3 separate regions of the Homo sapiens genome follow, and all the other regions are linked to region 1. The links come from fine-mapping of genetic effects on gene expression. A gene starts in region 1. Each other region holds a variant in brackets. All regions are shown on one strand. Distances are from middle to middle.

Evidence for each region. PIP is the estimated chance that this variant, and not a neighbour inherited with it, causes the effect.
Region 2: its variant is the best candidate, but not a certain one, in a credible set for the expression of OFD1 in breast (GTEx, PIP 0.65).
Region 3: its variant is the best candidate, but not a certain one, in a credible set for the expression of OFD1 in monocytes (TOPMed, PIP 0.53).

What each region holds. Positions count from the first base shown.
Region 1 is chrX:13,731,928-13,738,297 of GRCh38, forward strand. OFD1 (OFD1 centriole and centriolar satellite protein) reads left to right here and starts at 2,821. Exons shown (of 23, transcript NM_003611.3): 1 at 2,821-3,156; 2 at 3,321-3,419; 3 at 4,551-4,751. The coding sequence starts at 3,145. TRAPPC2 (trafficking protein particle complex subunit 2) reads right to left here and starts at 2,693. Exons shown (of 6, transcript NM_001011658.4): 1 at 2,598-2,693; 2 at 2,117-2,258. RefSeq lists enhancers at 2,195-3,394, 3,163-3,734.
Region 2 is chrX:13,761,675-13,768,245 of GRCh38, forward strand. It overlaps OFD1 (OFD1 centriole and centriolar satellite protein), which reads left to right. Exons shown (of 23, transcript NM_003611.3): 18 at 670-770; 19 at 2,071-2,181; 20 at 5,453-5,610; 21 at 6,380-6,550. Among named protein-coding and RNA genes, the nearest start is that of OFD1, 30 kb to the left of the region's middle. The variant G/A (reference allele first, on the strand shown) is at 4,116.
Region 3 is chrX:13,790,732-13,801,923 of GRCh38, forward strand. All of the region lies in intron 2 of GPM6B (glycoprotein M6B), which reads right to left. Among named protein-coding and RNA genes, the nearest start is that of GPM6B, 21 kb to the right of the region's middle. The variant C/A (reference allele first, on the strand shown) is at 4,992.

The sequences.
Region 1 (6,370 bases):
GGTGAAATTAACAAGATAGAAGTTAAGAGGATAAGAAAGCAAGCCCTGTACTTGGGCTTAAAAATCAACTGTACAAAAGGACAAGGGAAACCTAGATTAAGAACAGTTCATCTACATCAACCCAAAAGTTCTGCAAGCTCAGTAAGAGGCAAAAGTCTGATAGGTTTGTCAAAAAAGCTAATCAATTCTAGGTGGCATTAAGAGCAAGGTCAGGGAGAATGCTGATGTCCTCTTCAATAATATTATCATCTTTGGGGAAGGTACTCAGTTCTGGGAATCATATTGTAAAAGGATCAATAACTCTGTGTGTTACAGGGGAAGGGAGGGCAGGATCTAGGCTAGGAAATGCTCTGGAAACCAGACAAGAGCAACTGAAGTAACAGAGGATGTTTAAACGGAGTAGGGGAGACCTTTTTGGGGTGGAAAGGGAGTGGGGTACAGCACAGTACTATCTTTAAATACGATAAGCTATCTAATGAAAAAGGGACTTGGCTAGGGATGGCAAATGAGTTTCCTTTCATAAGCGAATTCTAATCAACTGGTAGTGACTGCCAGGAACTGGCGCTGAGAAAGATTCTGAGACTAAATGTGGTCACCAGGAAAGAATGCTGTGATCAATTATCCATGTCTGCTATGAATTTGGGGAAGTGCAGTACCTACAGGAGGGCCAAGTATTTGCTGACTCTGGACTACACAGACTTATTCCAAACCGTTCCATAGGCCAAGCCCAGGGCTGCTCATTTGAAGTCACTGGGAAACTAGAAACTAAGGGGTGGGTGGAACACCAACAGTGCCAGAGTGGGAGGATGCTCAGTGAACTTGGAAGTCTCTTAAGTTGTAGACAAATGCAAGATAAAACTCATGGACTCCAGTTCCAAAGACATCCATTTTTGTAGCATGCCTCTTTACAACCTCTATAGAAGAGCTTCTAGAAAAACTGCCCTGTGCTCGCGAGAGCAGTGATTTCAGTTGTTCCATAAACCTGGGGTCATGAGACTAAACTGGTATGGCATGGGACATGTCTATTACAATGAGGAGGGGCAGTAGGAATACTACTGATAGGTCTTTAATGTGACATTTTTCTATTAATATTATAAGCAATTCTCCCTCCCCTAGAAGTTATGCTAGTTTTTGGAGAACATTTTATCTAATTATATTCATGTATTCAACTGTGGGACCAAAGGTGGAGGTGGGAGTAAGGGGGTCTTCAGGAACATTTTTTTTTTTTAAACAGTGGACAAGTGATTCTACTTAACAACATTTACAACATATCAACATCTTTTTAGAACACTGTTTTCATCATTCCACTCAAAAGCCTTTGATGCATCTCAGCTACAGGATCATGTACTAGTATTCAAGATTCCCACATTGCTCCACGTGTCTTTTCTCAGCCCTATTGTTCCACCTCTGCTAGCGTTGACTCGTTTACTTATTTTTTCTCCCAAATTCACTTTGACTATATCGAGTTCAGAGCTACTATCATTTCTCTCTTCATGCCTGGAATGTTCTCCTTTATTCTGTCTGCAACCACTACCCATCCTTTAAAATCCAACTAAGCCTCTCCTCCTTTTCCATTGTTTCCAACAAAAACTTACAGGTTCTCCACCTCCTATGAAGTCCTGTCACTCTTACTGCCTCTTAAATACTTTAAGTTTTTCACAGCCAGAGATCAAAACTCATCGTACTCATCTTCAATGCTGTACACAAAGCTGACATCCAATTCTGTCCTCACAGGACTTAGATACCATATAAGGCTTATATTCCCAGCACACAACTCTGGAGTCAGGCTAGATTCCTCACTGCTCCCAAGAAGGTCGTGGCTTTTTTTTTTCTTTTAATGATTCCTTTGCTCATTTTTCCCCTTCCTGTGATGTTCTCCTTTTTGCTCACCACCCGAATCCTACCCATCAAGGCCCCGATAAAGACACACTTTTTCCACAGAGATGATCTGGATCACTTCCATCTTCAACCACCTCCCCTTTAAACTCTTTATCCAGTCTACAATGTATCTTAGTTCTTGTTCAATTCTCTGGCTGTAACATTTTCATTATCGCTTCTGAGAGGTTTGGTTCCTTTCCTTTCTAATTACATTTAAGCATCATGAGGACTGGCTCACCTTTACCTCACAGCACACAATGGTTGGTACTCTAAAACGTTTAGCTCTGTGGATCTCAACCCGGAGCGATCTTGCTTCCAAGAGGACATCTGGCAATATCTGGAGACATCTTTGGTTGTCACACTTGGGGGAGAAGGTGATACTGACAAAATAGAGAGCAAGGATACAGCTAAACCTACAATGCACAGGACAGCCTCCCAAAACAAAGAATCTTCCGGCTCCAAAAGGCAACAGTGCAGCCGTTAAGAAACCCTGGGTTAGCTGAATGACCCAGTGAACCGCGAAACCACAGCCCCCGAGAGGGCGGACGTCTGCAGGTGGAAGGGCTGCGCGGATGAGCCAGCGGAGGGCTGGCAGGTCCGGCCCGGCCACCCCGGGGAGGGGTGGAGGTACAGGACCAACATCCGCGTCACGCAGGGGCTACGAAGTCCTCCAGGGACTCAAAACACCCGCCCCCCGCCGCACTTGCTCCATTCCCTACCTGCAGTGGGAGGCCGACAACGGAAACGCAATGTCAGTTTCCGCGGAAGAGACCCGCGCCCCGAACCTGTAGCCAGAACGCCGAAGCAGTTCTCGCGATACCCTGGGATGTGCTCTCGCGATACGTAGGCGGAGCTTCCGGCCGGTGCTGGGCAACCAAGCTCATGCGCCGTAGCTCTTCAGCTCGGGAAGGCTATATTTAGCAGGTTTCCGGAAGTTGCCGGACTGGCTGTGAGGCGGTCCTGCCTCGCTGCCTTCAGTCCCTAGTGTCTGGGTCCCCGCCCTCCAGCCGCCTTTGAGTCGTGCCTGGGTCCTCGCCCTTGCCTCAGAACCGCGAAGAAAGGAAGCTCGCGTGTTTGCTAGAAAACCTAGTTGGGAGTGCGAGGCAGAGAACGTTCAGCACCTTTGTTCCTCCCGAACCCTCGGGACAGAGGCAGGGTTCTGAGGGCAGGGATTCCCCCTCGTCTTGGCCCCACCGCCCGGGCTGGGCACTAAACTCGGGCCGCGGCGGGGCGAGCGAGGCGGGCTCCGGAGGGAGCTGACGCCTGATGATGGCGCAGGTAGACACACCTGCCCCTTCTCGGGCGGAAATAAAGTCTTGTTTTGTGTTCGTTAAACTTTCGCCGCTAGGCCTCTTATGGCTTCCCCGGAGGCCACTGGTCTGTTTTCAGACGTTCACGTTCCCTCTGCCCCGCAGGTAACCTATAACCATTTTGTCTTTTAGTCCAACATGTTTACCGTGGCTGATGTGTTGAGTCAAGATGAACTGCGCAAAAAGCTATACCAGACGTTTAAGGATCGGGGTATACTGGATACACTCAAGGTATCGGATTTAGGCGTATCTGTGTCAGCTTTTACAAGTGTAACCTGTAACAGGTAGTTCAAATTCAATCAAGGTTTAGGTTTTAATAATCGTATGATACATAGATTGTATTGGTGAATTACATTTTTATATTCCCGAATAACTCTGTATCCTGAAACATTACAGTCTCTTGAAAATGTTTGAGAAAATGTTGAGTTTGAGTCGTCTTAAAGGAGCATATTCAAATAATTAATTGAACTGACAATAAGATAGGAGAAGGAAATATTTGTATAATGAACACAGTAAGATTAGGCTTGTTTTATAAATATGGCTTATAGGTTCCTAAATTAATAAGTGGGTTTGTAATACATTTGGATGAAGGACATTGACACCATATAGAAAATACTAGTGTACTGCTTAATAATAGTTTGGGAAATGAAAAATTTTATCTTTAAACTATATTGAAATGTATGAATGTTTAGTTTGGGCAGAAAATACCTATTAGTATGCTTTATATTTGGATTAACAGCCAGGAGTAGGATTAGCTCAACGTGTTTTCATTGAAATATGCATTTCAAAAGCATATTTTACGTTTAAAATATGTAGCTATATCCTGTGTATGTATCCTTTTTTAATTTAAATTATATGGTGAGCATTTCCCTGTTTCCTTAAAAGTTTTTTGAAATCTTCATTTTCAGTGGCAACAGGCTTATCTTTGGATATTTTTGTAATGTATATAGCAGTCCCCTGTTGTTGAATATTTTGGTTATATTCTCCAACAGTCCACAGAGGTGTGATGAAGTGGCAGAATTTTTTCCTATACTTAATATCCCAATCGTAAGCTGCTGAAATGGGCTTCTAGGGAAGTGAAGTTATGAGTCTGCAAGTGGATCTGGCTAACCACCCGTTTCATTTGGAAGCTGGGGAAAGAAAGCTTTTTCTAGAACCCACTGGACTGCTTGTCTCACGGGGTAAGACAAAGTGTGCAGGGGAAGGTTTCTAACTTCTGGCCATGGATCTAGAACCATTATGGAAATAGAAGGAAGGTTTCCAATGAATGTAGCTCATCTGTGTATATCTCTAATGAAACAGTCCTGCTGAAATTTCTTTCCCTTGTGTTTCTTTTTTATTTTTGTTTTTATTTTATGCTAGACACAACTTCGAAACCAGCTAATTCATGAGTTGATGCACCCTGTATTGAGTGGAGAACTGCAGCCTCGGTCCATTTCAGTAGAAGGGAGCTCCCTCTTAATAGGCGCCTCTAACTCTTTAGTGGCAGATCACTTACAAAGATGTGGCTATGAATATTCACTTTCTGTTTTCTTTCCAGAAAGTGGTTTGGCAAAAGAAAAGGTAAAGTCTTTCCTTTTCTGTTTCTGAAGTTTTTATTAACAGGTTCTTCCTCTGCTGACAGTAAAGTGCTGTATGATAGCTAAGTGCTCCTCGACTAGGTCCATTTCTGTTTCCTCTTTGAATTCACATTGTACCTGCACATAATATATTTGTTATATAACAAGTGGGTACTAAATTTGAAATTAATTTCTTGGCGTCTCATTTAGTCTCACATAAAACAGTGATGTATAGAATCTCTAAATGTTTCAGACCTATAATTGATCTATCTATCCTCTATCTTGTCTAATAAGACTCTGCCAATCTGCTGAATGTCTGCTGTAAGCTTGGCACTGTGATAGGCACACTGCAGATGTTTTGTGTGTTACGGATGAGGAACCAGACTCTGGAGAGGTGAATCAATTTGCCCAACATCAAGTAACTTTTAAGTGACAATGCAGGGTGGTAAATCTAGATCTCTAACATGAGCTCTTTTTTTCCTGCACTAGTTTCTTCAGATGTTTCTCTTTGTAATTAGATAAGTGAGAAATACGTAATTTAAAAAATCTGTAAAGTTCTCAAATATTAAAAACACTTGTTTTTTTTTTTTACTACTTTTCTAATTATTTTAACTATATTTCTTCACCATTACTGTTGAACATTAGTACTACTTTATTATTTTAAAGGCAGATACAGCAGACTTTCCCTGTGGATATGTGCGTGTTTTTTTTTTTTTAATAGACTTTATTTTTTCAGAGCAGTTTTGGGTTCACAGCAAAGTTAAGTGGGAAGTACAGAGAATTCCCATATACCTGCTGCCCCTACACACTCATAGCCTCCCCCACTGTCAACATCTTGCATCAAGGTGGTACATTTGCTACAATCTATAAGCCTACCCTGACATGTCATTATCACCCAGAGGCCATAGTTTACAGTGAAGGTTGCAGTGAGCCGAGATCATGCCACTGCACTCCAGCCTGGGTGACAGAGCGAGACTGTCTCAAAAATAAAATAAATTTCACTCTTGGTGGTGTTCATATGTTTTTACTTTCTTTGTGTTTTCTGTAATTATCCAAAAGTTTCATATTCCAAAGTTTTAGTGACACAAGCTTAGTACAGTATTTGAATGAAAACTTAAATAATTTGCATTTCTTCATAAGCAACCAAATTTTATTTGTCAGCATTAGGAATTTATTTATTAATTTATGTTTTTGAGACAGAGTCTTGCTCTGTTACCCAGTCTGGAGTGCAATGGCGCAGTCTTGGCTCACTGCAACCTCTGCCTCCTGTGTTCAAGCAATTCTCCTGCCTCAGCCTCCCAAGTAGCTGGGATTACAGGTGCCCACCACTACACCTGGCTAACTTTTTTATTTTTAGTAGAGAGGAGGTTTCACCATGTTGGCCAGGCTGGTCTCGAATCCTGACCCCAGGTGATCTGCCCACCTCAATCTCCCAAAGAGCTGGGATAACAAGCATGAGCCCTCGTGTCTGGCCTGGAATTCATTTTTGATACATCATTCTCTAACTTTCTAATCACTTTATACTTTTACTTATTGTGTAATAGTCAATAATACAATTATATAGCAGGAATTAATCCTATTCATACAACTTAACGGTTTCTACTAATGTAAAATGCCCATGCA
Region 2 (6,571 bases), 30 kb after region 1:
TCAAACGTGGTAGCAGGCTCTGGTGTATGATTGTTGAAACAGGAAGGAGTGGATGTTTTTAGAAACTAGTCCACTGGGTCAGCCAGGCTATGATTTGAGTCATGAGCAGACTCCTACCCATACCTGGGCCCCACAGCAGAGGGAACTGACTCCTTAGCTCCAGGCTCGATCTCGGGCATCTGCATGTTAATGTAGTTCTCTGCCACATGGGCCTGTCGTAGTCCTAAAGCTTTTTTTTTTTTTTTTTTTTTTTGTGATAAGCCAAAAGGAAGGATAAGACACACACATATGCTGAGTTAGGGCGCTTTGCTCACTCAAGGTTGTGGTGTTGCATCTTCATCTGGTTCATGCTGATAGTGTGCAGAATTTTTTTTCAGAAATGTTTTATGGTTATTTCCTAGGAATAGCATTCAGAGTACAACATTATTCTTTATTAACAACTGTAGTACCTACTTCACAGCATGAAATAGTTACAAGGAGTAACTGATTAAACAGGTATTAATTGCTGAGAACAATGCCTAGTGGTGGTGGTGAGGTGGAGCTATTTACAAGACAAAGAGAAAGGGAATTTTGTAGAGCCTTTTCTTGAGTCACAAAAGGCTTTTTGTCACCTTGTACTCTTTGGTTTTCCATTATTGAAACTTCACGAGTTTTATCCTTCCAATCTAGTCTTTATCGAAGACAAACTGAACTTCAAGACAAAAGTGAATTTTCAGATGTGGACAAGCTAGCTTTTAAGGATAATGAGGAGTTTGAATCATCTTTTGAATGTAAGTTCAAATATAAATACCAGTTTTTATATGTTGAAAATCTAGAAAGCTTAGTTTTGGTGAAACGTATCCATTGGTTTAAAAAGAAAAGCAGTTACAAATTGGGTCATTATTATTTTGTGATACAACCACAAGTACAGATGTATCACCTCATTTTTCTACCATGATGATTTTCATGTGTGTGTTTACTTTTTAAAAATTTCAGTATGACTAATAATTTCAGAGTTTGAGCTAAGCTTATAAATGAATTATTAACTTATCAGATTTTAAATAAGTGATTTTTATTTATTTTTTCCTTTGATGGAATACAAGAATGTTTATTTTTATTTTTTTGAGATGGAGTCTCTCTCTGTTGCCCAGGCTGGAGTACAGTGGTCCGATCTTGGCTCACTGCAATCTCCCTCCTCCTCCCAGGTCCAAGTGATTCATCTGCCTCAGCCTCCCGAGTAGCTGGGACCAACCACAGGTGCATGCCATCACACCCAGCTAGTTTTTTTGTATTTTTAGTAGAGATGGGGTTTCACCATATTGGCCAGGCTGGTCTTGAGCTCCTGACCTCAAGTGATCCGCCTGCATCGGCCTCCCAAAATGCTGGGATAACAGGCATGAGCCACTGCGCCCGGCCTAAGGATGTTATTTTTTAAATATACTGATTCAGTTGATTGCCTCAGATTTAGAAAACCTCATTTTTAGTAAAAGAATAGAGATAAAAGAATATTAAGAGTCCAGAAACTGGTGTCCTGGCTATGGCCCTGCCTTAGACTGTCTTACTTTGTAGCCACTTTGTAAGTGTAAAATAAGCATGTAGAGCCTATCATCTCTAAGGTTCTTTCCAGCTTGAGAAATCTTTATATTTGCATATAAGCTATTGGTTAGCCTTGTAAACTTCATCTTCAAATCTGAAAGTGTTAATATTTTGAACAGTTAAATGAGAGGGCTTGGTAAATTTTGTAAATATTTGTTAAAGTCTTTGTGTTAAATCATTGATATTTTAATAGAATTCAAATGATGATCAGCAAGCCAATTGAATTCTTCACTGTCACTGGGTTGATTTTCCTGTTGGGTAACGAATCTCATTTTGTAAACAAAGTTAATTCTTTCAACTACGAGAACACTCTGACAAGCAAATACGTTGCCAAGTGGTTATGTTGGGAACTTCATAGAATCCTGTTAGGAAAGGGCGCACCCAGTTACTTTGGCTTCAGTTCCCGTGCTCCAGTCAGTTGCCCCCACACTGCACTGCCCTTCTTTGTCTTGGTGTTATTATTAAGGACTCATGGGACAATTGTGCCTCATGCAGCTGCAGGGAACATGCCAAGGCAGTTGGAAATGGGCGGGCTTTCTCCTGCCGGGGATATGTCTCATGTGGACGCTGCTGCAGCTGCTGTGCCCCTCTCATATCAGCACCCAAGTAAGTTCTTTTTTTGAACTAACAGTCAGCAGGGTCGCATACTAAATACCAGTCCGTGTGCTCTGTGAATTATTTCATGTATCACTGAAGTCATCTTGTAGGTGTAAATTAGTCAAAATCTTGGGTTGGGGGTTATAGGTGTCATTATATTGTTAATGACATTTCTGAAGTAATTCCCATGTGAACATGTAAAGACAGTGCTGAGAAAGGACACGTTGGAAGGAAAGGCTTCTCATTTAGGCTTCCCAGGCCAGTTGCTTAAAAAGTGTTTTCATTTACTCTTCAGTGCCTGGCATAGTAGTTGGACTTTTCCCCAAGACTCTTCTGCAAAAACTGTTCCTTGGGAACCTTAAAGTTTGGGAAATCACAGTGAAAAATTGAAATAATAATTAACTCCCAGCATATATCTTTAATATGATTGTAACATTTAAATATTATTTATTTTTCTATCTACTTGTTTCCTTTGTGTCTTAAGAAATTAGGACAGAAAAACTTCGTATTTCAATCTTTGGAAAAGCTGTGACACCGAGTTAGCGTAGCACTGGAGGAAAACTGGCCATCAGACTTCTCTTCTCTGGCCCACTTCCTCTTTTTCCTCTTCTCCTCCAGATTACCCACTTCCCTCCCTGCGGGTGGAGGGAGACGGGAAGAGAGCCGTGGGAGCTTTGTGCTTTGTTCCAGGGCTCAGCCAACAGCCAGGTCCTTTTCTTCTTGGACCAAGTGTTTAATCCTCAAATCTGAAAGGAATTTTCTCAAGTAAAGCCACCTCTTAGTCCCTCCCAAACGTTGGAAAAACATCATACCCAAAACCCCTGTTAGCAGTTTCTTGGTTTTAGTCATGGTACCCAGGAACATATAAAATAACTGAAAGAGGCAAGAGATTTTGAGAGGGTTGATGTTGCTGATTCCAGAGTAAATCTGCTTTGGAAAGCATTCAGTGAGACATGATCTAGAGCCTTGTCTCTGCTGGGCACTTTGCTCAGCGCTGAGCATATAGCTCAAGCCCTCGCCTTCCTGGATTTCTAGCAGGGGAGGCAGATGGTCAGCAGGCCATCACCCAGGACCGCAGCAGGGAGGGGCTGCAGCAGCTGAGTAGGGGCCGTGGCCACAAGAGGGAGTGTCTACAGGCACTCATTTGGCACAGACCTGAGCGAGGGAATACAAATAATGTGATAGGATAAGGGAAATCAACTGAGTAACTAGGTGTTCTGCTGCTGAGATGGAACATAGATTATAATATTTGCTTTAAAAATTATTAAGCAGCATGGCGAGTGACATTTTAGTTATTGAGAAATTGTTATATTTGTCATTTCATCTCTTCATCTGGGCACAAAGGGAATTCAAAAAGGTTGAAATTTGGTGTCTCGGAGGTGCCCCGTGGACATGCTTCCTTCCTTTCCCCTTGTGTCCAAGAGATTTCTGTATACCACCCTGCAGCTACAAAATATACACCAGAGTAGAGAAGCAGCTCACTCTTCCTCTTTATTTTGTAATTGGTGCTTAAACAACATTCCTATTTTGAGATTACTATTCCATATAAGAAAGCAATCTTGTTTAGGAGTAACTATTTTTTCTTCTCTAGCAAGGAGGAAGTTGCATTTCTGCCTGTGGAAATGATCAGCTGTCTCCTCTGGTATTTTAATTTCATGAGAAGGATTCAGAAGAGATGGGGGAGAGAGAGAAGAAACTGTGTTGCTTCTCTCCTATTAGTAAAACTCAGTTCCTGCTGATCACTTTAGAACAAGGCACAGCAAAAAGGTTCAAAGTCCTCTGCTGAACCTATGAATTTTTCTACTTATTAGCATTGCTTGGGTTGAAAAAAAAAATGTAGGTTATGGGTCAGAGCCAGAAGAGAAAGGTCAGCATAATTGTCTCTGGGATTGGGGTCTAATTAAAACTTTTGAGATATAGGGACCTGTGCCAAGATGCAGAGG[G/A]AACAGACAAGTAATTAAAGTATGGACCTTGCCTGGAAGGAATAGAAGTGGAAGAAACAAGTACATGTAGTTTTTGACAGATCAGGTACAAGATATCCTGCAAGTGAGATGCTGGAGTGGTTAGTTGTCACTTCAGGAATAAGGAGGAGGTGGCATTTCAGTTGGGTCTTGAATAGCATTTCAGACTTTGTGAGAGCAAGGGAGTGCTACAGGCTGAGGAGACAGTGAAGGTGAATGTCAAGCAAGGAAGATAGAGCCACGGCCAGGCCCCAGTGAGTGGGTTGGTACAGATGAAATATTTCTCGTACAAAGTTGGTGGTGATGTAGGAAATCAATCTGGGAAGAAAAGGGCAGGTTGTCAGAGCCCAGACTACCATGGCGTAGGACTCTTATCAGAGCGGAGATGCTGCACAGCAGATCCACATCTTCCCCTCAGGAAATGCCTGGTGCAGATGACCACAGGTTGTTGGAAGGCAGAGACTGGCTTCAGGAAGAGCCTTGACTGGGCTGTTTCAGTAGTCCAGGGAGATGGTGAGAAGGGCCCCTGTTGCAGCCACAGGACAGGGAGTGTGAACCTGCAAACACTGGTGGCTGAGTGGATAGAGGGTAGAAAGAGCATGATCGAAGGACCGGGATGATCATGCCTGGGACGAAGCTAGTGCTGTGGGGTTTCCACATGCGGATGGCAAGGAACTATCAGAAATGTGGACGCGAGGCTAGGGAGAGAGACCAGGAGTAGAGGAAAAGATAGGGAAAGGATCCATATACAAGTGATGGCTAAAACCCCAGGAAGGGCTGCCGTCAGTTTGGAGGAAGTGGGGAATGAACAGTGAGATGGCTGGAATGGCGGGGGGAGGGCAGTGGTGTGATTTCTGTTCTGTTTTGTTGGGGTAGGACAGACTTGAGCATCTTTATGGGAGTAAGACTTCTAAAACTACTGTGTACAGAAATAGGGATTAATGGCTCAGTCTGGGTCCTAAAGATAGGGGAGGGATTATAATCAAAGGCAGAGGCAGAAATGCAGGGTTTGCCTTGGAAAGGAGGGAGGAGATCTGTGAAGAGGATGAGAACATGTGACATGGAAGGAGGACAGTTGGAGTTGGTTATGGTGAGGGTGACGTATTTGTCTCAGTCAAGTGAAGTAGGGTACAGTTCAAGGAGTGGGGTCGGGAGCTTGAAGTCGGTGAAAATGAAATAGTGACTTGAAGCAGGTCACAGAGTCAACTAAAAGCCAAGCAGAGTCTCCGTGGGTCTTGGCAAGGGCTCCTGCAGACTGGTCCTGCATTCATTTGAATAATCTGATACTGGAAGCTACTCTTTATTTTCTGTCCTATTAGGTGTAGATCAGAAACAAATTGAAGAACAAAAGGAAGAAGAAAAAATACGGGAACAGCAAGTGAAAGAACGAAGGCAGAGAGAAGAAAGAAGGCAGAGTAACCTACAAGAAGTTTTAGAAAGGGAACGAAGAGAACTAGAAAAACTGTATCAGGAAAGGGTAATAAGTATGACTTGATTCTCTGAACTGGTTGCTCCATTGTACACCTTTCGTAAGTACATTGAGCTCAGGGAGGGGAGTCAATTGGTGTACAAAGTCAGAGGTGCGGCAGATGCCTTAAAAGGCATCCCTGTCCTCTCCTTGTCTTAAAAGCAGTGGGAAAGGCTGCACAGAATGTGAAGCTTAGGAGTTTTGTAGTAAAGGATAGTTTTTGAAGGTAATTTTTGTACATTCTCATCTGATCCTTAAAACAAGCCTGTAAAAAAGGTAGACTGTGCTTTGCTGCAGAACTTTGCTTTGAAAACAGGGTTTAAAGAAGAGACTGTCAGTGCCAGCTAGCTGGGACTAGAACCCAAGGGAGGAGTGGCTGCCAGTTCACAGTTGCTTCCAGGGGCACACACTCCCTCCCTCCTTCCTCTATTTCTCTTCTTGCCTTCTGTGTCCCAATTCTAGTCCTAGCAGATGGATTACTCTGTCCACTTAACACACCTGCTAAGTCTTGCTTGAATTACTCTAACATATGAATGTTCCTTGGACTCTTGGTTAATTCAAGTCCAAAGCACAGGACACTTGCCAATTAATACCTTCCTTCATTGAGATGACATATTTGTCTTCCTTTGATGATAGCAATGACTTCAATTTTAAAAATTAGTCCTCTGGCATACAGGCTGTACTTGAAGGATCGGGATTAATATTAGTGCATTTTTAAAACACTTAAAAGTTTTACAAATGTATTTGTGTATTTTCTGTTTTGGTGCCTGTTTTATAGAAGATGATTGAAGAATCACTGAAGATTAAAATAAAAAAGGAATTAGAAATGGAAAATGAATTAGAAATGAGTAATCAAGAAATAAAAGACAAATCTGCTCACAGTGAAAATCCTTTAGAGAAATACATGAAAATCATCCAGCAGGAGCAAGACCAGGAGTCGGCAGATAAGGTGCCAGTGCCATGGGCAGGG
Region 3 (11,192 bases), 61 kb after region 1:
GAGTGCAGCTAGAGTGCATTTTTGTGAGCCAAACAAGTACTGTTAACCTTGGAATTTTTCATGCTTTAGTGTCATGCCATAGACAGGGTCTGAGAAGACGGGAATTGAGTCACCTGAGAAAGCAGATTTCTAAACACACACACTCCAACCACCCCCTAAAGTGCTGGGAGTGCCTGTGCACAAAAAGGAAGTAGATCTGGGATTCAGGCTGTCCTTAGTAGTCATAGGCAAGCTGATGTTTTTAAATATAGGGGTGGTGCCAAGTACCAGCAGAACACCATGCTGTTAAAAGTTTACGATAGCTAAGGAAGATCAGTGCTTTTCTTGGATGCTCCTATAAATCCACAGACTGAATTTTCCCAAGCTTCAAACCAGCAATGACAACATTGGGTAACGTGAACGAGAAAAAATAAGGAAAGCATTTTTTTGATGACTGTGATGTATTCATGTAAAAAAATAATAATCAATGCCAGGTTTTTTTTTTTTCTTTCTTTCCTGAGAAAGAGTCTCACTCTATTGCCCAGGCTGGAGTGAGTGGTGTGATCTCCGCTCACTGCAGCCTCAACCTCCTGGGTTCAAGTGAGTCTTATGCCTCAGCCTCCCTAGTAGCTGGCATTACAGGCACATGCCACCACATCCAGCTAATTTTTTGTATTTTTAGTACAGACGGGGTCTTGCCATGTTGGCCAGGCTAGAATGCCAGGCTTTCTAGCACATTTTACTAGTAATTCTCAATACCTCTCACCAAACCCTAAAAGCCTCTGTTGGGCTGTCTTATGCCTTCATTTAGCTGGCCTCTGGATAAAAAGAATTTTAGGTTTTGATTCACACAAAAATTACAGTGTACATTAGCCTAAGACAGTTTAAATATAAGCCATGTAGTAGGGAAAAAAAAAATACACATCAATGCCTTTAAGTCTCAAAGGCTATTTTGTCTCCAGTATCCCTAGAACCTTTTGTGCAGAACAACAGAATAAAACACCTTTTGTCCTCAGGCTTGTGGATGGCCGTTGCCATGGCTGTGAGTTCATAATGGCCAAGTGATTTGCCCAAGTTGTCTGTGATCTTGGCTGCAGATTTAATGCTGGCTCAGACGTAGGGCTGGCAGGAACAAGGGCTCAGATTCTTCCCCAGGGAATGAATGTCACACATACATACACACACACACACACCCTCCCAAACACCCCCCAACAAACACCACACAAAAAAACCACCCCCTTACCTCTCTACATGGGGCCTTCCTTGCTATATTACTGATTCCTAATGAGCCACAAAATTAAAAAGAAAAGATGCAGGAACCAAGCTTTACAACTTTCAAGCAACAAGCAATGGGAAAATGGAGAGGGCGAAAATCCTAAGAGAAGCAGCAGTGAATGTCAGTGGACAGAAGCTTCCCTGATTCTGAGCTGGCCAAGCAATTCTCAACAGGGGGTGACTGTGCCCCTCAGGGGACATTTGGCAATATCTGGAGATATTTTTCGTTGCCAAAGCTGGGGGAGAGGGTGCTTCTGGCATCTAGTGAGTAGAGACCAGGGATGCTGCTCAACACCCACAGTGTACAGAATATGCTCTTATAACAAAGAATTACCCAGCCCCAGATGTCAATAGCTCCAATGTGGAGATTCTCTGAAGTAGCACAAAAAACATCTACATCGTTTAGACCACTGGTTCCTAATCCAGGCAATTTTGCCACCCAGGGACATTTAGCGGTGTCTGGAGACAGTTTTGGTTGTTACAACTGAGGGTGGGGGACACTACTGGCATCTAGTGGGTAGAGGCCAGGGATGCTCCTAAACCTCCTAGAATACACAGGACAGCCCCCATCCCCAAATAAAGAATGGTCACACCCAAAATGCCAATAGTGCTATAAACCAAAAATAAAACTCTGGGCCGGGCGGGGTGGCTCACGCCTGTAATCCCAGCACTTTGGGAGACCAGGGCAGGCAGATCACGAGGTCAGGAGATCGACACCATCCCAGCCAACATGGTGAAACCCCGTCTCTACTAAAAACACAAAAATTAGCTGGGTGTGGTGGCGCATGCCTGTAATCCCAGCTACTTGGGAGGCTGAGGCAGGAGAATCGCTTGAACCAGGGAGTTGGAGGTGGCAGTGAGCTGAGATTGTGCCACTGCACTCCAGCCTGGCGACAGAGCGAGACTCCGTTTAAAAAAAAAAAAAAAAAAAAATTCTAAGCACCCCCCACCCCACCCCCAACCATCTGAATAGATTCCTGGTCTCTGCCAGGGGGATTCCAAAGTTAGCCTGAAAAAACTAGTTCAGGCCATGATTGGAAGGGAGAGTCAAACATACCTCATTATACCCTCCTCCCTTCTGGAATTCAGGAAAAGCCAACCAGCATTAACATCAACAGACCTTAAATCTGCTAAGAGACATTTACAATCTATTCTCTCTGAAGCCTGCTACCTGGAGGCTTCACCTACAGGATAAAACTTTGCTCTCCACAACCCCTTATCATCATAACCCAGACATTCCTTTCTATGGATTCCAGGTCTTTACATAATTTTTAAATCTTCCTATAACCTGCAAGCCACCCTCTGACCCCCTTTGAGTTGTCCTGCCTTTCCAGATTGAACCAATGTACATCTCACAGGTATTGATTGATGTCTCATGTCTCCCTAAAAGGTATAAAAGTAAGCTGTGCCCCGTCCACCTTAGGCACATGTTATTAGGATCTCCCGAGGCTGTGTCACAGGTTCTTAAGCTTGCTAAAATTAACTTTCTAAATTGATTGAGACCTATCTCAGATAGCTTTGGGTTCACAGTGCCAAGAGTGAGAAACCCTGCTCTAAGGTTACAATACATAATTCTGGTCTCAGACATTTGGTGACACTGCCAAATTCTAAAATCTTAAAAAGAAATGCTTAAAAGAAAACTAACTTTCTTGGAAAACATTATAGAGCAGAGGTTCTCCATTTTTCCTACACATTGGAATAATCTGGGGAGCATCTGAAAATCCTGATGCCCTGGCTTCACCCCAGACCAATTTTATCAGAATTTATTGGGGACGGGACTCAGGAATTAGAGGGTTGGGGTTTGTTTTTTTGAAGCTCCCCCGGTAACTTCAATGAGCACTCAGTGTTATATAGCACAGGTCAGCAAACTGTGGCCCACCAGCTAAATCTGGCTCTCCTCATGGCCTGCAAACTCAGAATGATTTTGACATGATTCCAAGTGGTTACTTTTTTAACCGCTTAGAATATATTAAAAAACCTATTTTGTGACACATGAAAGGTACACAAAATTCAAATTTCTGTGTCTATAAATAAAGTTGTATTGGCACACAGCCACGCTCATTCATTTACATATGGTCTATGGCTACTTTCAAGCTACAAAGGCAGGGTTGAGTTGTTGCCACAGGTATTTACTATGTGGCCCTTTAAAGGAAAGTTTTGCAGACCTCTGTTAAAGAGCAGTGGTTCTCTCTCTCTCTCTCTTTTTTTTTTTTTTCCCAGATACAATCTCACTCTGTTACCCAGGTTCAAGTGCAGCAGTGCAATCTCAGCTCTCTGCAACTTCTGCCTCCTGGGCTCAAGCCATCCTCCTGCCTCAGCCTCCCAAATAGCTGGGACTACAGGAAAACTTTAACCTGCGTATAAATCTCCTCGGGACTTCATTAAAACGCAGATTCTGTTCAGGCAGGTCTGGAAAGGACATTGAGCTCCCAAGAGATTCTATCCTGCCTGCCCACCAGTCTCACTCTGAGCCAGGAGTGGGCCCTCAAAGACGGTCTGTGCAGCCCCGGCAGACCTCAAGATCCTTGCAGGAGGACTGTGAAGCCAAAACTTTTTATAATAGCACCAAGATGTTATTTACTTTTTTCACTGCTTGACATTTGCACAGTAAAACTGCTGATGCCTGAGCGTGAATCGGGCAGTGGCTCCATAGTGTACTTAGCAGGAACACATTCCTCACTACCACGCGCTCGCAAGAAAATAAATTAAAAAGCCAGTTTCACTTCCAAATGTCCTCGATGCAATAAAAAATTATTAATTTGATTAAATCTCAACCCCCGAGTATGTGCCTTTCGAACAGTTTGTGTAATGAAATGAGTGAGAGGATGCAGAGAGCCCTTCTACCACAAACCAGCGTGTGACAGTGGGCTGCAGGAAACATTCTTATGTAACTGAGTTATGAGCCAAACTTGTACCTTTCTGGGGGCAAACACCCCCTTTCTTGAAAGAATGCCTGACAAGATATAGTTTTTTAGACTTAAGTATTTGGCAGAAACTTTCCCAAAAATGAACAGCTTGTCACTTCAAAGAAAACAACTGATAGTATCTGTTGCCAATCAATTTTGGAAAACTTGTACCTGCCATAGTGAGACTGACAGCTTCCAAATACTTACCAGACTTCTTGATGAAATTGGTGGTGACATTAACCAATGAAATTTTTTTGACATGGTTTAATTAAATGTGTCAACGTCTGGAAGATCTGCACAACTCAGAGAACCAATATTTTCCAAATAGCCAAGGGAAAATAATTCTTGAATATAAGAGTCAATCAAAGTGCAAGATCAAGCAATGAATTTTAGTGGAAAAGAGTACAAAAATATCATCAATATGGTTTCAGATTCCACATTACAAGTAGTCTTTAAGAAACCACTAGCTGCTGAATTTTGGTGTAGTATCAAGGAAGAATTTCATAATTATCTGCAAAGGCCATTAAAACACTCCTCCATTCTCCAAGCACATACCTGTGAGAAATTTGAGTTTTCTTCATATACTTCAACCAAAGCAAGATACCCCAAGATGCCTCTGAATGAATGCAGAGGCAGATGTAAGAGTCCAGCTGTCTACTGTTAAGCCAGATATTAAAGAGATTTGCAAAAATGTAAAACAGTCCTATTCCTCACACTAAAATATTATTTTCTTTTTGAAAATCGTTATCTTTCCTAAACATTACTTAGGTTGACATATAATGGATTTGCTATTATTTTAAATGACTAAGTTTATTATTAAGTAATAAACTT[C/A]TCAGTTCTAATTTCTTTTCTTTTTTTTTTTTTTTTTTTAAGATGGAGTCTCGCTCCATCTTAAAAAACTCAAAGGCTGGAGTGCAGTGGCACGATCTCAGTTCAGTGCAACCTCTGCCTCCCGGGTTCAAGTGATTCTCCTGCCTCAGCCTCCCAAATAGCTGGAATTAAGGCACATGCTGCCATGCCTGGCTTATTTATTTATTATTTTATTTTATTTTGAGATGGAGTTTCACTCTTGTTGCCCAGGCTGGAGTGCAATGGTGCCAGCTCGGCTCACTGCAACCTCAGCCTCCCAGGTTCAAGCGATTCTCCTGCCTCAGCCTCCCAAGTAGCTGGCATTACAGGCACGCACCACCATGCTGGCTAATTTTGTATTTTTAGTAGAGACGGGGTTTCTCCATGTTGGTCAGGCTGGTCTCGAACTCCTGACCTCAGGTGATCCGCCCACCTCGGCCTCCCAAAGTGCTGAGATTACAGGTGTGAGCCACTGTGCCTGGCTGGCCTGGCTAATTTTTGTATTTTCAGTAGAGATGGGGTTTCGCCATGTTGACCAGGCTGGTTTTGAACTCCCGACCTCAGGTGATCTGCCCACGTTGGCCTCCCAAAGTGCTGGGATTACAGGCATGAGCCACCATGCCCAGCCCTCAGTTCTAGCTTCTAATATAGAAAATATTTATAGGCACAACTCAGAAGAGCAAAGGCGTTTTGGGGTCAACTGTTTCTAAGCACATAAAGGGACCTAACACCCAGAAAGTTCTGTGAACCACTAATATAGTGCATTAAAAAGATGTGAAGTCAGTTGACAGGGGCTTCCTGTCCAAGAACAAAGTGCGAAATCAAATATAGGTTGCTTCTCAGTTCTCACGTCTTTCATGCAGTCCTGGACATAAAAGTTCAACTACATAACGATAAGAATGTGGAAACTATTTCTAATGATAGAAAGGAAATCACTTTTTGGCAGGTCCTTTTAGAAGCTTGTCCTAAAATCTGTTTAATAAGGGATTTTCATTTTTGTGAAAACACTATGGAAGTCTTAAAATAGATGAGCCTCTAACATTTGCAATATGGTACTAGCAGAAGATAAGCAAGTCAATAAAAGCAATGATACGCTTCCATGACTGGGAATAAACAAATCCAACAACCAGATACTTGTTAGTCTCTTCCTTTGCCTTTTGTGGGAACTGGCTTTGGTTTTCCCAAAGGCTTTTAGCCTGGTAAAGTGGGACAGCAAGGAATCATGGAGATCAATGGAGAGTAGGGGAAGCCAGCTCTAAGTCCAGATGACACAGATTTTAAGAGCACAGCAATCTGGAGGCTACTCCAGACATTTGAGAAGTATTTAATATCTGCAATTTTGAGCTTTAGCAGCAATCAGTTTCCTTGACCATCTGGGCGACAGTGTCTCTACTTTCCTGGATTCCATTCCATTCAATGAGTGTCTGTCCAATACCTGCCATGTGCAAGCCACTGTGGTGGGGTCTGCAAGTGTGCCCTCCTGGCTTTGATCCTTGTGGGTGGGGTGAGGGGGGCGGTAAGACACACAGACACATAAGGTATCACTAAAGTAGAATAAAGAGAGTGCTGACACAGGGATATGGGGGAGTGAGGTAGGGACAGATCTCTTTGGTTGGTGTGGGTTGCTAAGGCAAAGGTTTATGGATGGCAGGAGGTGAAGAGGCCTTGAAGAACAGAAGGATTCCATGAAAAGCACAAAGGAAGGACAGCAGGACCCATGTGATGTGGGAGACGTGGGGAGCGTTCAGGGTGTAGCCGAGTTCATCAAGGACACCAGGGTAATGGTGGGGAGAAGTCAGGAAGGTAGGTCCCCCCATTGCCTGGTCCATGGAAGATGTCCAAGCCAGCCTCAAGCCTCTGTGCTTCACTTTGCAGCAAGGGGAAGAGAGGGAAGGTTTGTGAGCAGGCGAGGCGTGACTCAGGATGTGCTTTTAAGAGATGAATCTGGCACTGGTGTGTGGGCTGGACTGGAGTGGGTGCAAGCTCAACTCTTCAGTGGTAGGCGGTGGCAGAATGGGTCTTCTGAGGTTTATTCATGGGGGCAGGACATCTTCAGTAAAAGCAGGAAGGATAAAAATTGGACAAAGCTGTGGAGCTATTAAGCAATCAACATCATGCAACATTTTCTATTCGGGTGAGAAAGGGTGAGAGAATTTATGTGAACACATCTTCACAAGGGCCATTCTAGAAAATGCAAACTAATCCACAGAGAAGGAGAGCAGATCAGTGGTTGCTTGGGGAGAGTGGGAGCATAGGAAGGATGGAAAGAGTTGGGAGTGGCAGCCACATTGCCATGCTGCTCATGGTGCTGCTTTCATGAGCACACACGTATGTCAAGGCTTGTCAGACACTTTAAAGAGATGCACCATATGCATATCAATTACACCACAAGAAAGCGTTTTCAGAAGACCTGTTTGTGAAGTTCAATTTCTACAAGACACACTAGTAATTTAAAAAGGTTGTGAACCCCTTTGAGAAACTAAGGATTGGTGGTGAAAGCCAAGAGCCACATTAACCTGGGTGATGGGAACCCTCCAGGCAGCAAGGCACAGCAGAGGCATCCTCTGGACTGAGGGTAAGGACAGCAAGGGTCAGGGAGGCCTTAGGGCTTTTACTAGACAAGCAGAGGGCAGGAGGCTACAGTGAGGGGGAAGGAAAATAAAGGGCGCTGAGGAAGACATACCTGTTCCTCTAACCACAATAACACACTCATATGCCCTGCATACATCTCTGTATGCATAGGGTGTTTATAGCACGTGCTATATGCAAACACACGTGTATGGTATTATGTTGCATAAATAAATATATGTAGGTTTAAATGTATTGGTTTATGCACTGCGTGCCTTTTAAAAGAGTGAGTTTCTCTTCAGGAAACACCGATACATAGATTGTATATAATATTCCAGACTTATCAAGCTATCCATGCCTGCAATAAGCTTAACATCTGGGACAAAGCTACCCCATGGACTTCTACTGCTTCACTTAGAACCAATTTCCTGACTCAAAGCGTAGGACCTAGCCCAGGGGTTCTCAACTCTTGGTACTATTGGCATGGGCCATCCTTTGTTGGGGAGGGGCCGTCCTGTGCACTGTAGGATGTTTAGCAGCATCCCTGACCTCTACACCACTAGATGCCTAAAAGGCATCTCCTGAAAGGCAGAAACTCCCCCGGATTGGGAAACACTGGTCTACCACAGTGGTTCTCAACCTTGGCTGCACAGAGGATCACCTGGTGGGGGAGCTTTCAAGAACGCTGATGCCTGGGTCCCACCCTCAAGATTCTGAATGACTTGGTCTGGATGTGGCTTCGGAATTTTAAAAGACCTCCCCTTCCTTCCAGGGTTCTACTGTGAAGCTCAGGCTGAGAACTTCTTATTCAAGAAAATCATCCCACAAAGTTAACCCTATTTACATGCAGATGATTCTAGAAACCTCGATTAGCCAACCTAATTTTTTTTTTTTTTTTTTTTTTTTTTTTTTTTTTTTTTTTGACACAGAGCCTTGCTCTGTTGTCCAGGCTGGAGTGCAGTGGCACAATCTCTGCTCACTGCAACCTCTGCCTCCTGGGTTCAAGTGATTCTCCTGTCTCAGCCTCCCAAGTAGCTGGGACTACAGGCACCCACCAATACTCCCGGCTGATTTTTGTATTATTATTATTATTATTTTTTTTTTAGTAGAGATGGGGTTTCACCATGTTGGCCAGACTGGTCTCAAACTCCTGACAACGAGTAGCCAATCTGAACTTACTTAACAAACACCTGCTGAGCTCCTATGCAACTCTCAGAGTGCAAGGTCTTGACCAGCCTGGCCCAGGAAATGAGCCATGTACACAATGGACACTAAAATTAGACAATTTCATATAGAGTCACACATCATGAGTGCTAAAAATAAAGTGATCATCATTCAACACTATGAACGACTGCTTTCTTGGTCCTAGGTCCCGAGCCAGGCCAAAGCAGGGAGCAAGGCATGAAGACCTCTGCTCACAGAGAGCTTAGAGTCTAGTACCTCAGGAAGGCCGTCAAACACCTGCCAGGTACTCATTTAACCCAGTGATACATTCTCTGAGAGGTGAGGCTTTGAGAAAGTGAAGAGGTTATGATCATTAAGGAGATGGAGGATGCATTTGCACTGTGAAATGTTTATACAGACTGTGGCAGGCAGCTAAGACACCACCCCCAATGATCCCCACAAACCTACATTCATGGCCTTGTGTAATTCCTTCCCCTGAATGTGGGCTGGACCTAGTAGCTTACTTCTTAGGACTAGAATATGGCAAAAGTGATGAGATGTCACTTCCCTGATTAGGTTTCAAAAAATTGACTTCTGTCCTGTTAGCATTGTCTCTCTGGCTGGCACATTCTCTTACCTGCTCACTTGCTCTCTCTATCTGATGAAGTCATCTGCTATGCCATGAAGTAGCTATGGAGAGCCCACACATGGAAAAAAATCAAGGGAGGTTTTAGGCCAGCAGCTTGTGAGGAACTGAGGCCCTCAGTCCCAAAGTAACCAAGTCCTGCCAGTAGCCACATGAATGAGCTTGGAAGTGGATCCTTCCCCAGTTAGGCCTTCAGATGAGACTGAAATCTCATTAGAGTTTCTGAGACAGCTAAGCTGAGTCCAGACTCCTGACCTAAGGAAGCCGAGATAATATACATTTTTGTTTCTAGCCACTATGTTTTGGAGGAATTTGTTATGCAACAATTGATAACTAACACACAGCCTGAGCTCTGATGTTTGCCTACAGCTTTACAATCTAATGTTTTTGCATTGGCTCTTATACACAAAGATATAGTGGCAATAGCGAAACATTACTTCAAGAGGAATTTACTTCAAATTCAATAGTACTGTCTGCTAAGGATGTGGAGGTTTGACTTTGAGCATCTTAACTGTAAATACATATACAGGTTGAACATATACATACACAGGCTGAACTGAAACGATACTTTACCAAAGATGTTATAATGAGGGGTTATGGCCTTCTATGTATATAGCAGTGGTGGTCAAACTTTACTGTGCATTAGAATTGCCTGGGGGAGCTTCTTAAAATGGGCCAAATTTCTGGGACCCATCGCAGAGAGGGTAGGTGGGGACTGGGAATCTGATTTTTCTTTTTAAGAGATCGGGTCTTGCTATGTTGCCCAGGCTGAACTTGAACTTCTGGGCTCAAGTGATCCTCCTGCCTTAGCCTCCCAAGTAGCTGGGACTACAGATGTGTGCCACCATGCCCATATGAAATCTGAATTTTTAACCAGCATTCTTAGCGATTCCGATTCAGGGCATTGGAACCTCATACTTAAAAAAAAAAAAAAAGAAAGAAATGATCCCCAGCACTACATTTAGTAAACCACAAATATCTTTTCTATACACAGGAAATAAAACTTGCTAAAGTGCACTGAATAGAACACTAGATGAAAGTAGCTCACAGTATCCACTTAACGGGACTTGGTTTATTATGGGAAAACTCAGAGAAGGACCTGAAAGAGGCCAGAGGGGCTGAGCTTCTAGAAAGTACCAAGAAATTCTCTGAAGAAGGGCTGAGCCTTAGTTGACAGCCTGTGAGCAGGGAGTCCCTATTCCCCACAGAGAACAAGGATTCTGGGGCCTGGAGGGCAGAGGATGAGGGATGTTTGATGGAGAAGATTTTAGGAAACTGAGTGCCGAGCAAAGTTTTTAGGTGTTGCCTAACATCAGTAGATAGAGTATTGCATTTTGACACACTTTGCAAATTCTAATTCAAGGATTGGCAATTGTTTTCTGTAAAGGACCAGATGGCAAATATTTTTGGCTTTGCAGGGTGTATAGTTGCAGCTTCTCAACTCTGCTAGTGGAGTACGAAAGCAGCCACAGACAATCAAATGGGCCTGGCTGGTTCCGATAACATTTTCTTTACAAAAACAGTGGGTGGCATCACCAGCCTCGTCTGTCAAATCCTCACAGGAATCTCGATTTATTGCCACTGGGAAACAGCACATGAATATAAACAAGGTTTTCTCAAGACACAGGAAGTCTTGTTTCGATCCCATTACCTCTCCTACCAGCCTGACATTTCACCCCTAGAGCTGGTCCTTGGGGGTGAAAGCATTGTTCATGGAAGTCTCCAGAAAATACAAGCATGATGATCTTCAGAGGAAGATTTGTCCCACCTAAATGACTCTGACACCCAGAGCATTCCGTTTAGTA